Linked DNA regions of Homo sapiens: region 1 is linked to region 2. A link means that fine-mapping ties the variant in region 2 to the expression of a gene that starts in the linked region. Tissue or cell type: tibial artery. Region 2 holds a variant in brackets; the other region holds the start of a gene. All regions are shown on one strand. Distances are from middle to middle.

The links. PIP is the estimated chance that this variant, and not a neighbour inherited with it, causes the effect.
Region 1: SLC1A7 starts here. The variant in region 2 is fine-mapped to the expression of SLC1A7 in tibial artery (GTEx, PIP 0.94).

Annotation. Positions count from the first base shown.
Region 1 is chr1:53,138,254-53,146,448 of GRCh38, forward strand. It overlaps SLC1A7 (solute carrier family 1 member 7), which reads right to left and starts at 4,385. Exons shown (of 11, transcript NM_006671.6): 1 at 4,062-4,385. The coding sequence starts at 4,196.
Region 2 is chr1:53,088,048-53,096,047 of GRCh38, forward strand. SLC1A7 (solute carrier family 1 member 7) reads right to left here. Exons shown (of 11, transcript NM_006671.6): 6 at 5,414-5,513; 7 at 4,507-4,740; 8 at 2,565-2,759; 9 at 1,753-1,887; 10 at 830-932; 11 at 1-180. Among named protein-coding and RNA genes, the nearest start is that of PODN, 30 kb to the left of the region's middle. RefSeq lists an enhancer at 6,839-7,376. The variant T/C (reference allele first, on the strand shown) is at 3,765.

The DNA.
Region 1 (8,195 bases), 50 kb after region 2:
TTTGGTAATTTCATGGTGATGGGCCATAGTATGGGGTTTTCTTTCTTTTGTAAACAAAATTGACAGTGCTATGCTTGCCTTTCACTTCTGAGAAACTGCTTAGATTCTCTGCAAACTGTTTCTCCTCTATTTTTCTTCTGTTAGCTGTCTCTAAAAGTGTCATTAGGTAGCTGGACATTGAACATTCTAATTTTCTTATATTTTCTTTTTCTATTTTCATTTATTTTTGTTCTAGTTTCTGGGAGATTTCTACAACTTTATCCCAGTTATTGACATTAATTTTTTTTTTTTTTTTGGAGATGGGGTCTCACACCATGTTGCCCAGGCTGGCCCTGAATGCCTGGGGTCAGGCAATCCACCCGCCTTGGCCTCCCAAAGTGCTAGGATTACAGGCATGAGCCACCAGGCCTAGCCAAAGTTTTTATATTAATATATAATATTTGTACATATTTATGGGATACAGTTGGTATATTGTTAAATACACTGTGTAATGTTCAAATCAGGGTATTCAGGGTCTCCAACACTTCGAGTATTTATCCTTTCTATGTGTTGGGCAGCTACTCACATTTTTATCTTAGTTCTTCTATTTTTAATTTCCCCAGATTCTTTCTTGTTCTCTGATTGTTCCTTCTTTTCACATCCCCTCTGTTGTACGGTAACTATATCTTCACTCGCAGCTCCAGAAAGCTTAAGAGGAGATTTACAAAGCTTCCTTCTCCTCCCCGCCTTGTCTCTGCTTCACTAGAGACCCACTTTTCTCTTTGTTTCTCTCATTAGAGACCCCCTTTTCTCTTCGTTTACTCTGTTTCACATTAGGAGCCTCCTCACATTTCTGGTGGCGTGGCTTTCTGCTCGTATGTAAGTTTGAAGCGCTAAACTTCTGCATGTATGAGTAGGGTTTGTCAACTGACGGCCCTCAGGGCAGGGTGACAGGTGCTGATCTGGCTTTTTCACTGGGGCTGGGTGGGATGGTAGAGGAGTCTCCTTTATAGCAGAATTTAGAGATCTTTTCTCTGAGGCCTCAGTGAGAGAAGTCTCTTCCTGCCTTTGGCTGAGGAATGACATGGTGCCTAAGCTCAGCTGACAGCGATCTGAAACCGTGCTGGGGACCCCACTCAGACAAGGATGTCTGTTAATTAGTTTGAAGTAGGTGCCTCAGCATGGCCCTCTCCCCAACACACACAGGGGTGGCCCAATACCCTCAAGTCCAGCTTCTCTGGTTCCTTGGGGCAGGCAGTGGGTGGAGATGGGTGGATGAGTCCCCCAACTGAATTGGAAGGTCCCTAGGGGTCTAACTGCTCTGGTTACAAAACTCCAAACCATGCCCAGGCTTTCAACCCCAGCCTCACCCTGCCTAGTGCAGCATCTTGCTCTGTTACGTTCTGGAGTCTGCAAGACAAACTGACTTGGTATCAACTTCCACAGACTAAGATTCCAGCTTTCTGTGAATGAGGTCATCAGCTCCACCCACCTCCATATTATCTAATTTGTTGTAGCCTCTCTATTTCTTTTTCTCAACTGTCTCCTTTTATATTCTCTTTATTCTTGGTGGTTTTACCTTTTAAAAATCCCATTACTAAAATGTTAGTGGAATTCTAGGAAGGAGGGAAAAAAATGGATACACCTGTGATTCACCATGGTTTAACTGGAAGTCTCAAAATGCTCAGTATTTTTAAATGAGACACTCATACACCAAGATAAAATCCTGTGATTTTATCAAGGATAAAAGTTCTTTTTCACAAATAGAACATTCTACCATTTTCCATATTGTTTATGATTTTTGCCTGTTGCATAAGCTTACAAAACAAGAAGTGTTTAGTTTCTGAGTCACAGGCAAAGAGATCAAACAGAGAAATCCCAGATTTCAAAGTAAGATGCTGAGAAAGCCAGTTTCTGCCAAATAATTGTTCTAAGCCTCTACATCCTTCCTTCAATTTATCTGGCAGGTTAATCCAGACTGGAATACATTTGCATTTCCAAACAGATGGGAAAGGCAGCTTTGGCAAAGTAGGCCCCAGATGAGTTTGGCTTTTAATAATAGGCATTCCAATTTGTTTTCACAAAATAATCTTCCTGCAGGAGATATATTTTTGTTGCTGAGGAAAATTAAAGAGAACAGATTGCAGATTTTTTTGTTCCATTGCCAGTTTAATGCAGCAGATAGTTGAGCGTTCTCTCTGTGCCTGACACAGGGCTAGGCTCACGTTTTGGTTAAAAAAAAAAACAAACCCATATGTTGTTCAGCAATATGCAGCTTGGTGGGAGAAAGAGACACCCATATAACCAGCTCTGAAGCCAGGCAGCCAGCAGCGGGGTTACAGTTACTTTCATCAGCTATGGATGATGAGATGGTTCCTGATGTAGATAGGACTTTAACAGGTACATAAGGGAGGGAGGGGGAAGTAACACGTAGTAAGCACCTACTGTATGCTGGGCATTGATGAATCCTTGGTTTATTCCTCATAATAATTCTAGTAGACATATACTGCCCCACATCCCATTTTACAGACAAGGAAACTGAGGCCCAGGGAGGAGAGAGGATATTGCCTAGCCATTTGCTAGCAGAGTCAAAGTTCAGGGTTTCTCTGCCTCCAGAGTCCATGCTTCTTCCTAAATAACTGCTCGAGGCTTAACAGGGTCACTATAGTCGTGGCTCAGTTCTCCAGGAGTGGGTGTTTTCCTTTTAATGGAAGACAAAGTCTAATGCCTGACCCCAGTTGTAGAGATGGCATTAGACATTAGTGAGCTGCGGGAAGAGGACTTTCTGGGAATAGGGACTCTTCCAGGAGCCCATTGACAAAGCCTCTCTCCTTGACCACACTTTAGACAGGCTCCTCTGAGCCCTCTTTTCCACTGGGCTTTGTCCTTGGGCCTTGTCTTCAGCCTGCATAGTCCAGCTGTAGCAAAAGTCCTGCCAAGTCAGTTTAGTGAGGATCCCTCACCCTCCAGCATCCTGATACTGGATCAAATTCCTCATCCCAGATCAATGTCTGATCACCCTGGCCTGCCTTCAACAAGAATCCCCCTACCCTGATGTCTCCTGTAGTCATTTTCTGTCCCCGACCCCCTCCCTCTGCTCGCTGGCTATAAATCTCCAGCCATCTTTGTTGTATTTGTGGTTGGGTCCCATCTCTCTCCCCAGGAGGTCTTGATAACTACCCCCCTACCACAATAGTCCTGAATAGAGCCTTCCTTACCAGTTTAACTAGTGGCAGAATGATTTTGTCCTTAACACCATGGGAATGTCCCTCCCTCTCCTGTAGGAGATGGGGGCTGACAGGGAAAGGGGCTCTTTCCCAGGAAACGCAGCTTCTTCATGGCAGTTACACAGGCTGGAAACCCGGGGCCTGGCTCCCCTTCCTGTCCCCCAGCCCACATCCAATCGGCCCCCACATCCTGAAGCTCCCCCTTTTGAAAACAGTTCTCACGTCTGTCCCTTTTGTCTGCACTGCCGCATCTCCCCCAGGCTGCCCCTTCTCGGCCCCCTGCCTGCCCCAGAATCACCCCCTCTCCACTCAGCACCTGAGGGGTCTCCCAAGCTCCAAACTGGCCTGTCGCTCTTCTGCCCAAAAGCATCTCATGGTTGCCGCAAGCCCACGTGTGGCGATGGGACCTATGGGCCTGCTGGCCTCTGCGCTCCGGCCGCTGCACCTGGCATCTGCTGTCACCTCTGCCTAGAGCACGCTTCCTGGATCTCTTGTCATTTGAGCAGCCTTTAGGAGGTGTTCTCTGGTGCCTGTTTGAACTCACACAAGACCCCCCTCTTTCCCCGCCACAGCTCTTGGCCCTGTGTTTGTCATCATGAGGCACCCTCGCCTCTCCTCACCTGATGGTGCTGGGTTTGTAATCACTCCCCAGCCACATCACTGGTTCTTCCCTCTAGTCCTGCAAAGTGTTTATCACACCCATGTTACAGATGAGAAAACCAGGACCCAGAGAGGCAGAGGGATTCACACACTGTCATGGCACCAGGGAGCTGTGATGCTAGAACGGGACCCCAGATCCCTCAGGCCCACACGCCCCTCCTGGACAGGGGTCCCGAGATGCTCTGGGTGGCTGACCTGTGGTGAGAGGCGCCGGGTCCTCAAGAAGAAGCCGAGGAGGCAGCCCACGATGACAGACAGCACAGACAGGATGAGGAGTCCATTCCGCCTGCACACGTCCCTCCCCCGTGCCAAGATGGCATGCGGCACCATGGTGAGCCTGGCCTGCTGGCAAGGGGCACAGCACCATTCCACGCATGAGAGCCCGGCCGGGGGCACAGGGTCTGGGCTGAGGGCTCTAGCCCCTCAGCAGGCAGGTGGTCGGAGTTGCTAAACACCAGTCGCCAGCCCCACGGCCATGCCCGTGTGGCCGCCTTAGAGGGAAGCCACAATCCTATTACCAGCTGCATCATTAGGAGCTGGGAGCAGATTAGGGCCTGGGAAATTAGAGCAGACCACGTGGTCTAGGAGTTCAGGCCTCAAAGCCAAGCGTTCCTCTTAAACAGTTGAGTGGACCAGGTACTGGAAGGAACAAGAGGAACATTTGCTTGGTTGGTTTGATCTTTACCCCTGCTTCCTTCCAGAAAGAATCAAAAACAAGACAGTAAGATATCAGTTTCCCTCAACATTAATTAAGCATTTACTATGCACCAGGTGCCATTCTAGAAGAGTGTTACATGTACTGGCATATTTAATCCTAACACCAATCCCAAGAAATAAGTACTATTAATATCACCATTTTACAGATAAAGAAACTGAGGTGGGTGGGTGCATGTGCTGCGGGCCAGGCCTGTGCTGGCTGCCTTAGCTATGCCAATCATAGGGAATTGTCCCAAAGATCCCAGGGTTCCCACCTTCATTTTTCAGAAAGGGAGGCTGAGACCCCAGAAGCCAGTCCCTTGGCCATGGTCACAGAGGTCAGAAGTCAGGGCTAGGCCAGTCTGTTTCCACCACATGAACAGGCAGATAGGTTCAAGGGTGCTTGGCAGTATTGTGGGGAATGTAGATTCGAGTCCAGGGGACCTGAGTTCAAAGGTGGGCTGTGCCACTCACCGGGAAATGGGACGTAGATGCTTCAGGGCTGTTTCAAGCCTGGTGCTGGGCACCCTGCAGGCTCTCTGGGCCTATTATTTTTTAAAGATGACAGAGCCCAAGAGACCCACATTCGGGTCCCAGCTCTGCCACTTACTAGCTGTGTGACCTCAGACAAGCATTTCATCTCACTGTGCCTCAGTTTCTCCATCTGTAAAATAGAGATGATAACAGCATCTACTTTGTTAGGGCTGGTACAAAATTCCACCCAGAGGGTATTTGGAAACGCAGTGTGAACCCTGGTGTGCTGAACAGGGGAACGGACTCTTAGGGTCATTATCACACTTAGTGCTTTGGAGAATAGGTGTCTTTTTGCTATTTCTTGTGGCCTGGCCTGCCCTGCCCTGTAAAGCCTGGGGGAATTAACCCTCGTCTATTTCACCAGAGATCTGTAATCTCATTAGGAGCAGTCAGGCAGCAGGCAGCAGGGAATGGGAAGTGCAGTCTGCAGTGAGGGTGGGAGGTAAAGGGTGGGGTGCACACAGGGGCTTCCTCCTCCTGACATAGGAGACAGGGGCAGAGGATGAAGAGGACGGGCCAAGTGGGGCATAGGGGAGAGGTGGGGAGAGGGGACTGGGGCACAGGCTCTGAAGCCATGGACAGAGCTCCTGACTGAGAAGATTCTGATCCCAATTTAATCAGCTCTGTGACCTTGCCGTCTCTGGGTATCAGTCTTGTCCTTTTTAGAATGAGAGAAATGGGCCCAGGTACCTTTGTCAAAGGAACTTCATTTCAACAAACCAATCTTCCAAAGCCCCTGCTCTTTGCAGTAGCTTGGGGTGGGGGGTGGGGGTGAATACAAGTCTGAGAGTTTTTTTTCCTCTGACTTTGACTCTTAAAACCAAAAGTTTCTTGCTACACCTTCAACTCCAACAAATGCCTCATTTTCCAAATAATCAGGTGGTTAGTTACTTCCCAGAAGAGAAAATATGCTAAGTAGGTATTTGGATTTGGGTTTTGATCAACTCCTGGGCTCAAACAATCCTCCCATCTTGGCCTCCTAACGTGTTGGGACTGCAGGCATGAGCCACCACACCCAGCCCAGACCTGGCCTTTAGCTGTGCCATGATATAGGTGAGTCTTGCTTTCTACCACAGCTCCATGACTCCCATTCCCAGGACGTGCCCTATAGCCACCACTGACTCCTCTCTCCCACAGGCTGAGCCTACCACTACCTGCCTACCAGACTACAGCCATTCTTTCCACTGTTCCTACGGTCTTCAACAGGAGAATTTCAACTCACTCTAGCAAATGTTCTTATAGCACCATTTAGTGTGCCACACCCCCTGGGTACTAGAAACACAACAGTGAATCAGACAGTACCTGCCCTGCCTTCAGGAAGCTTATAAGAAAGTGGAGAGACCCCAAGAACGGACTAATTCACACTAAAGTGTAAGTGACTGATAATGAGTTTACTAAGAATATTTGCAAATCAAATCAAGTCTCCTGGGTCAGAACCCTATAATAGTTCACCATTGACAAAGAATCAACTGCCTTTTACAATGTCACTAGATGTGCAAGACAATTTTTCCATAATTACATCAAAAGGAAGTTTGGGAAATGCTGGACGAAACAAAAAGTTAAGCACGTTATTTCCTCTGAGACAGCTCAAAGTCAGACTGCTAGAGTTAAAACCTCAGCTCTACCTTCAACCAGCTGTGTGACCTTGGGAACATTTCTTAACTTCCCTGTAAAATGGGGATAATGCAACAGTACCTAGATCATAGGGTTTTGATGTGGGTCATACAGTGCTGCATGCGCCATGGTTAGAGCGTGGCCCAGTGCCTTGCAGATAGCCCCAGGTAGTTACTATGAAAGTCTTTACAGTAGCGGCTGTGTCGGAGGAAGTCACCAAGTGGAGAATAGAGAATCCCACCCCTCCTCTGGAGCAGAGAACTCCCTGGGCCTGGTGTTTGGAGAACACGCCTGGGAAACCCCGGTCTGCAGCATCGAGTCTATGCTCCCCTGCAAGGCACTTTCACCCTTTTCCTCACCCTTTCAGCATTACCTCCTACTCCTTCCGTCACCCCTCCAGCTCCTATGACACCAAACCACTGCAGGGTCCTGGAACGCTGCATCCTGTCTCAGGCTTCTGCACCTTTGCCTGTGCTATTTCCTTGGCCTAGAATGTCCTTCCTTGTCACGAAAGTTACAGGTTAAATCCCCCTCTTCTTCGAAGCCTTCCCTGATTACCCTAGATACAATACCTTCTCTTTTTCTCACTCTAACTCAGGCCCTTCACAGTCACCAGCTGGGGATTCACCTAGCTCCCTTTTAAGTGGCTCTGACAAGGAAATAAGAATCTATGAAAATAAAATCAAATCTCTGTTTGTTACCATGTCATTTGAAATCACCTCAATGGAGAATCCTCAAAGTTGGAGGGTATATTGGCAGGGGCAGCGGGGTGCTAGGGATAGCCTGAGGAGCAAGGTGTTGTATAATGGGCAGCAGGCGGCCTCAGAGATGCTTCTGGGGAGGCTTGAGCTGGACAGACTGAGATGCTATGGCAAAGAAGAGACATGGTGTTGGCGAAAATGAACGCCAAGTCACAGGTGCAGCTGCCTCACCCTGCAGAAGCAGGTGTGCAGTTGAGCTGTTCTTCACCGGGCCCTCTGCTTGGGTTATGCTGTGGGGAGAGCAGCAGGGGTTGACTTATTTGCTAATGATTAATGATTAATGATTCGCCAGGGCTACAGGCAGGGCCAACCCAGCCTGGGAAGGCGGGGATAGGAAGGCTTCCCAGAGGAGACGTGGTTTAGGCAGAGGCCTCAATAAGCCAGGGAAGGGGGTGCTGGTCAAGGGAGAGGGGAGACGACAGTCTGATTTAGGCCGGAGGCGTGACAGCAGGGCCTCCCAGGGCTAGCAGTGCATCGGTGGGCTGCAGTGGCCATCGGGGCTGGGGCCTTACACCTTCCACCATGTGTCAAAATGAGTTTAGGTCTGGCCGGGTGAGCTCCCATCTGGGTCTGTCGTGACGACAGCTCGGGGTATGTTGGCTGCTTTCCAGAGACATACCAGAGGCGCCTTAATCTCCCTGACACGTCTTCCCAGCTCGCTGGAAGCTGGGCCCTTCCGGGAAGGTTTTCTGTGGGCAACAAATGCAGCTGATCCAGCTGGGTG
Region 2 (8,000 bases):
GTGGTTCAGACTCGCAGCGGGCAGCTCCTCATCCTGCTCCACTTGAACGGGGACGTGGTGGGGGCAGGTGGGGCCCAGGGTGAGCTCGGAGGCCTCGGCTACACTCTTCACACAGCCATTCTGCTGGGCTGCCACGATCTCCTGGAGGCTCACTGGCTTGGTCTCGCAGGGCAGCAGTTTCTGGTGAAGGGAAACAGGTCTTTGTAGCAGCAGGAGGGACCAAGGTTAGATACGAGGGAGGACTGAGGGCCAGTGGGGCAGAATGAGCTCAGGGCTAGGAACCACAAGATGGATTTTCCTGCAGACACGCTGTGTGACCTCGGCAGGTCACGGCCTCCCTGGGCTCCTGTTCCCAAGCGTCCTGCCTCCCACTGGAGCTGGCTTAGTAGAGGAGGGGACTTAATCCACAGGGTCCATCTGGGGAATTGGTGGATCCCCTGCCTGACCTCAGCTTCTTCCCCATGATGTGGGGACAGCCTTCTCCATTTGCCTGTAGAAGGAGCCTGAAGCCCACACAGCCTGCACAGACCTACAAATGCTCACATGTTGGCTAAACTGGACAGACCATCCCGACACGAGGGCGGGGAATTTTATCATATCTTGTTCTACTGTTCCTCCTGTGTCTATATCAGCGCCAGCCACAGCGGGTGCTCAATAAATAGATGTTAGAGGAATCAGTCATTCTGTAACGGATGAGGAGACCGAGGCCCAGAGGCATGGAGGGAGGGATTGGCTGGAGGCTGCCGAGCTGGTTGGTGGAAGATCTGGTGCCCTGCCCACCCTGCGTGGCTCCACCCTCCTGGCAGCCTCTGGATCTCACTGCTCTCACCTCGGTGCCTGTGTCCCGGGCAAAATCCTTCCGACATATATGGGCCATGATCCCCGCTGCCAGCGCATCACCCAGCACGTTAATCATGGTGCGGAAACGGTCCCTGGTGAGCCAAGGTTGGGGGTGAGTGGTGGGCACTTGAAGGGGAGCTGGAAGAGGGCAGTGCTCAACCCAGCACAGTACAGCACGGCCGGTGACCAGCTGTCATGCAAAGCCTGCAGCCAGATGGCTTCCTGGCTCCTCCCAAGCCCACCCTTTGGCATCATTGAAGCAGCTTCTTGGCATGCAGCTGTGGGTTCCACAGGTCCCCATGCTTAGAAGGGTTAGGTTTGGTTTAATCCTCTGCTGTTTCTGTCTTGAAATTCTTTATAGGTTTGTTTTTTGTTTGTTTGTTTGTTTGTTTTTTGAGACAGAGTCTTGCTCTGTCACTCAGGCTGGAGTGCAGTGGCGCCATCTCGGCTTACTGAAACCTCCATCTCCCAGGTTCAGGTAATTCTCGTGCCTCAGCCACCTGAATAGCTGGGATTACAGGCACATGTCACCAGTCCCAGCTAATTTTTTCTTTTCTAATTTTTAGTAGAGATGGGGATTTTACTGTGTTGCCCAGGCTGGGCTCTGGAATTCCTGGGCTCAAGGAATGCTCCTGCCATGGCCTCTCAAAGTTCTGGGACATATAGGCGTGAGTCATCATGCCTGGCCTTTACAGTTTTTGGACTGGGTTCCACATTTTCATTTTTGAACACTGGACCCCACAAATTATGCAGCCAGGCCTGTGCTAATGAGTAGGGCACTCCCACAGTGCCAAGCGGGGCAGTCCCCAGCCTTCTACCCTGGGGAAGGGACTCAGCCGCTCACCCTGATCCCTGCTGACCCTGAAGTCAGCCCCTCCCAGAGGGCTAGAGCTAGAGGCAAAGTCCACTCACAGAGCCCAGTCAACGGCAATGATGAGGGTGATGTCATCGGTGGGCAGTCCCACGGAGGTGAGCACGATGACCATGGTGACGAGGCCGGCCTGGGGGATGCCAGCTGCCCCAATGCTGGCTGCAGTGGCTGTGATACTGCAGGGGGTGGGAAGGGGAAGAGGAGCAGCAGGAGGGGCAGGGTGCATTGTCAGGGTCTGGCTCCAAGGAAGAGGTTGAGTGTCAGGGCCTCTGGGACAGCCATTTGGTGCGGGGGGTGGGTAGGAATGCCACACCAGGGAGCTCTCGGGGTCAAGTCCCTCCTCACAGTCCTGAAGCCCCATGGACCCCCATTCCTGGCCTCAGGAGAATCCCTGGGAACTGTGCAAACACCTGTGTCTGGAGCTGTGCCTCTGTGGGTTCCAGGAAGCTATATTGCTATGGGGCTGCCCAGGGACTCTGACTGACCACCACATGGCTCTGCCTGCCTGCCTCTGGGGCCTGGCCTCCAGGGTCAGACCTGTGTGCTTGGCTGGGCTGTGAGGCCTCCGTCAGCCTCAGCCGCATCCCAGCACCCCTTCGTTGGCTCCTGCCACACGGGCGGCCTCTCCAAGGTCCTGAGTCCTGTCCCTGGCCTCCGCTCGCCCTGTGGCCACCAGCAATGCCCTCCCTCCCGGGCTGTCCTCCAGGCTCGGAGCTCCCAGCCCTGGCCCTCTGCCTGCTGTGCTCCGAGCCCAGGCTCGCTCGCTTCAGATACCCCTCAAGTCTGGGAGCCTGGGAATCCCCAAGGCCCCCAGCCCCCGCCCCATCCACCCAGGTGCAGTGTCAGGGTGCACCTGATGGTGATGATCTGGCCAAAGTCCAGCTCGTAGTTGTTGACCTGGGCGATGAAGATGGCGGCCACAGCCTCGTAGAGCGCAGTGCCGTCCATGTTGATGGTGGCACCCACGGGCAGCACGAAGCGAGCGATGCGCCGGTCGATGTGGTTGTTCTCCAGCAGGCACTTGAAGGTGATGGGCAGTGTGGCTGAGCTACGGTTAGAGGGGCCGGTGTCTGCCCAGCACCCTCCTCCAGGATGGCTGGGGCCTCTGTCGGGAAGCTCACCCCTCCCCAGGCAGCCACCCCGCCAGGAGTGTTTGTGCCTCTGCAGCGCTGCTCCGGCAGGAGGTAAGGACCGCGGGCACTGCAGTGCTCTCACTTGGTTCTTCCTATGAGGGAGGTGTTTGGGTGCATTTTACAGATGAGGAAGCTGACGCCCAGAGGGCGGGGCTGACCCATGTCACACTGCTGTGCCGAGGGATATGGAGGTCTGAGCAGCAGGGCCCTGGGCCAGGCTGTCTGGGCTTAGATTCCAGCCTCCTGTCAAGTGGTCCTGGCAAGTTCCTGAACCCTGTGCCTCAGCATCTTTGTCCCAAAAAGACCTGGGTCACAGAGCTACTAGGAGGATTAAACGACTACGGGCTTGGACAGCACCTGGCCCATTGTACCCACTCAGTCAATGGTGACCATGACTATTATTATTACTATGTTTGTCATGAGAGTTCCCAGTGGCAGTGCTGGGACTAAAACAGGCCGGTGTGGCCCCTGTGTCTTCCTCTCCCCCGGGCCTCTGCCTGGAAGGCCGGTTCTACTCGCCAGAGCCTCTCAGGAGCTCCAGACCTGCTGGGCTTGAGGCTGCGGTTCCTGCTGGCAGGAGATGGCCAGGGGGCTGCTGGCTCTGGCTGGCTTGGCCCCTGGCATGGGAGCTGGCATGTTTGGGGCTTTGTCCTGCCCTCTGACCCCCTATCTGCGGGAGGGTGTTCCTGGCAATGGCTCCTGGGCTTTTCTTCACTGGGGTCTGCTCCTGAATCCTGCAGGAGGTGCATCTGCTGCCAGGGGTGGGTGTCATATGACTGCTGGGTACAGAGGCCTGCAGGGCATTTTACAGATGGAAAAACTGAGACCCAAGTGAGGGCTAGAGGGAAGAGTGAGGCCTTCAGTGCCAGAAAGATGTGGCTTAAGTTCCTGCGACTCCCTTAATGTGGAGCTCAGACACT[T/C]GCCATGGGGAGAGCCAAACTGCCTTCACAGCACTAGATGCTCCATAAGGGACCACTTCCTTCCTGCCCCCTCCACCAACGACATGGTTTGCACAACTCTAAATTCCTGAGGTCTCTGCACTGGGCTGAGGTTTGGGATCCTTAAGGCCAAGTGCTGGTTCACCTGGCCCAGCCTGGCAAGGAGGGGCTCGACCTCCACTGCAACCCTGTGAGCTGGAAGCTGGAGTCTCCCCCAGTCTGTGCATGAGGAAAGCAATGCCCAGGCACAGCGAGTGAGTGACAGAGCCATGGCTCAAGTCCCTGAGGTCTAGGGACACTGCCAAGGTTGTGACAGGGCACCCAGCCAGGACATCCCAGCGGCAGTGGACAGGCCGAGCTCCTAGAGCAACACAGGGCCCGACTCCAGGAGAAGCACCTTGTGGGGCAAAAGGCAGCAGCAGTGCGTTGCCAATGTGATTTCCCACTGACTCTACTGTGCTGTCTGCCCTGGCGCGTCGAGGCCGCCCCCATGCGGACTCAGTGAGCTTGAGGACTGGGGCCGTGGGGGAAGGAGAGGCCTCGACAAAGGCCAAAAGTCCCCCACGTCAGTCTTGTTACCCCAGCACCAGCCGTCCCCGCATTTGTGAGGTGGGCCACACTGGCGTTTTGGTGGTTCTGTGGCTATGAACCAATGATGGCTGGACAGACGGACAGGGCTCAGCCCCTCCCAGCTCCCCACCGTCCTGCCCGTCCCCGGGGCTACCTGGAGGAGGTGGCCAGCGCGATGAGCAGAGCCTGCAGGATGCCACGGATGAAGACGATGGGATTCTTCTTGGTGATGAAGAAGTAGAGCAGGGGCAGGATAAAGAGCCCGTGGAGCACCAGCCCGCACACCACGGTGACTGAGTAGAAGCCCAGCTTCTTGCCGACGGCCCTGGGGTCGTCCATCTCCAGGATCTTACCCGCAATGAGGAACACAATGCCGAAGGGGAAATACCTGGGGGCGGCGGGGCAGCCAGGCTCAGGAACCAGGCAGGCAGACACACCCCGGCCCCAGCCCCGCATCGCTGCGCGGCCTTCCCCCTGAGCTTCCTGGGGCTCCTGCGAGGACAGAGCGAGACTGCCAAGGTGCCCGGCCCAGGCTCAGCACATGGCGTCCTTCATACCGTTACTTCCACCGCCCCAGCTCCAGACAACCTCTGCCACTCCTTCCCCCGCCCTGCCTTCAGGAGGCCCCCATTTCAGGCCCAACAACGCCAGAGTCTACACAGTGCGCCTGGGCAGCCCTCCCTCTGCGTTCCCCACTGAGCTCCTGGACTCTGAACTGTGGGCCGAGGACTCTGAACTGTGGGCTAGTCCTTACCGCCAGCTTTCCTTTCTCCAAAAGCTGAGCTGATAAGGCTCCATGTGATGGAGAAACTGAGCCCAGGAGAGCAGCAGAGCCGGGCAGAGCTCTTAGACCAGGCTGGAAGGGGCAGGCCCAGGGCCGGAGCCAGGCCTGGCTGGGGCTGGGGGACCCATGGAAACACATGTAGCTCCGGAGGCCCCGGCCCAGGGCTGAGCCTGGGCACAGCTTTCTGCTCACTTTACGGGAGAAGAGGGTGGGGTCTTGTCTTCCCTCCATCCACCCAGGGCTGGCCGGGGTGAGGTGGGTAAATGAGGAGGCTTACCACACAGCCACCGCCACGATCTTCATGACCGACTCATTGAGGCACTGGCAGAAGCTGACCAGGGGGGCCCCGCTGTCACCCATGCGGCCCAGCATGATGCCTGCGGGTCAGGGACACAGTGCTGTGGTAAAGCAGGGACAGACCCACAGGCCCACATGGGTCTCAGCATGGCTGGCTTCCCAGCAGCCTTGATGCTCCAGCACTCCCCCCACTCCCCCCACTCTCTCTCTCCCTCTCTCCTCCTCCACTCTACTACCGATCCCACAGTGCTCTCACGTCCTCCTCTCTCACCTTCCTCCACGCAGCAGCCAATGTCACCTCCTCAGGATAAAAGTGCTCCCTGCCAAGTGCACCCCTGGCTTCGCTGTGCGCTTAGGCCATGACAAGCTCCCCGCTGCCTCACCCAGCTCGATGCCTCAGCCCCACTCGAGTGGGCCCTGCCTGCCTCTCCCTCCTGCTCCTGCCCATCTCACTGTGCCCTGGCACCACTGGCCTTCTTTAAGTTTCTGGAAGGAGGGAGTCCAGCTCTTCACTGCCTCAGGGCCTTTGCGCAAGCCGTTTACACAGTGCCCCAGGCACTGGCTGCCCGCTCTCCAAACAGCTTGGAAGCCATCCCCGATCCCCTTTGCAAACTCCCATTTATTCTTCAATATCTCACCTCTTAGGGCCTATTACAACATAACTGTCTGGGTTTTTTCCCGTCTCCTCTGCGAGGTTAGCTCAGCGAGAGCAAGAACTGCATCTCCTTAGCTGGAGCATGTTAGACGCACAGTGGTCAATGGTGAGTGAGGACTAGGGCCTTTCCTGATGCTCCTGGCGCCTCCCCCGGCATTCTAGGCCTTCCTCCCCAGCTCGCACACACCAGGAAAGGGTGGTGTGGGAACGGCTCCGTGGGGTGAGCTCTGTCAGGCCAGTCCTGAAACAGGGACTGAGTGGCTGCCCTACCTCCTGGTGAGACCGACGTGGGGAGCAGAGCACTCTCTACAGCTGCCCTCATGAGGCCCACTGTCATGGTGCTGGGGCTCAGCTAGGGAGGCAGGGTGGGATTCAAACCCTGGCCTGTGGGACACCAGAGAAGGGCTCTTTCCCTGTCCTGAGAAGCCTGAGCCACACAGTCCATGGAGCAGCTACCCCGTGGTGACGGAGTGAGGTGAGGGCCCTGCCAGGGTGGGTAGGAGAGGCTGGAGTTGGAGGTGACCCTGGGCCTACCCCGCCCGCCTGTCTTCCTGCCGCCTGGCTGATGCAGACCCAGACTCCCCTGCCGGCTCCGCCCTCCCCGGGCTCCACCACCACCACGCACGGGCTTCCTGCCCCTCCTCAGGCCCATTTGGATTTTCCCAGGGGCATCCGAGGACTGGCTGCTGGGAGCCAGTGTGCATGGAACCCTAGTGTGGCACGGGGGCTCCCTCACGGCAGGGCCAGCAGGACCTTAGCACCAGCCACATCCCAGGGATGGGGTGGGGAAAGGAGGCTGGGTTGAGGGAACCAAAGAAAGCCCTGCTCGGAGCCGCTGTGCTAGTGTGCTCACTCACACACGCGGGCAGACACTGGTATCTGCACCAACAGGCACAGGCACCGGCAGATGTGGACACTGACAGGCACAGGCACACACAGAAGCAGGTGCACACAGACACAGGCACGGAAAGACCAGGCACACGCTGATGCGGGGACACAGGAATGCAGCTGCACCCAGACATGAGCACAGGCAGATGTGGGCACACGCAGGCATGAGCACACACAGACGCAGGTGCACATAGACACAGGCACAGGTAAGCCAGGCGCATGCTGATGGGGGAACACAGGGACACAGGTGCACACAGACACAGGCACGGAGAGGCCAGGCACACACTGATGCAGGGACACAGAGATGCACGTGCACACAGACACAGGCACTGGCAGATGTGGGCACATAAAGGCATGAGCATACACAGTAAGCCACACCCTGCCTTGGTACACTCACACACCCTGCCTTGGTACACTCACACACCCCGCCTTGGTACACTCACACACCTTGCCTCAGTACATTCACACCGCCTCGGTACACTCACACACTCTGCCTCGTTACACTCACACCGCCTCGGTACACTCAACTCGCCTTGGTACACTCACCCTGCCTCGATACACTCACACACCCCGCCTCGTTACACACACACTGCCTTGGTACACTTAAACCCGCCTCAGTACACTCACACAACCTGCCTAGGTACACTCACACACCCCAGCTCAATACACTCACACACCCTGCCTCGGTACACACACACAACTTGCCTCGGTACACTCAACTGCCTCGGTACACTCACTCCACCTTGTTACACTCACACACCCCACCTCGGTACATTCACCCCGACTTGGTACACTCACACACACTGCCTCGGTACACTCACACACACCACCTCAGTACACTCACACCACCTTGGTACATTCACATCGCCTCGGTACACTCACACAACCCGCCTCGGTACACTCACACAAACTGCCTTGGTACAGTCACACCACCTCGGTGCATTCACACACACCACCTTGGTACACACACACCCCGCCTCAGTACACTCACTCCACCTCAGTACACTCACACAACTCGCCTCGG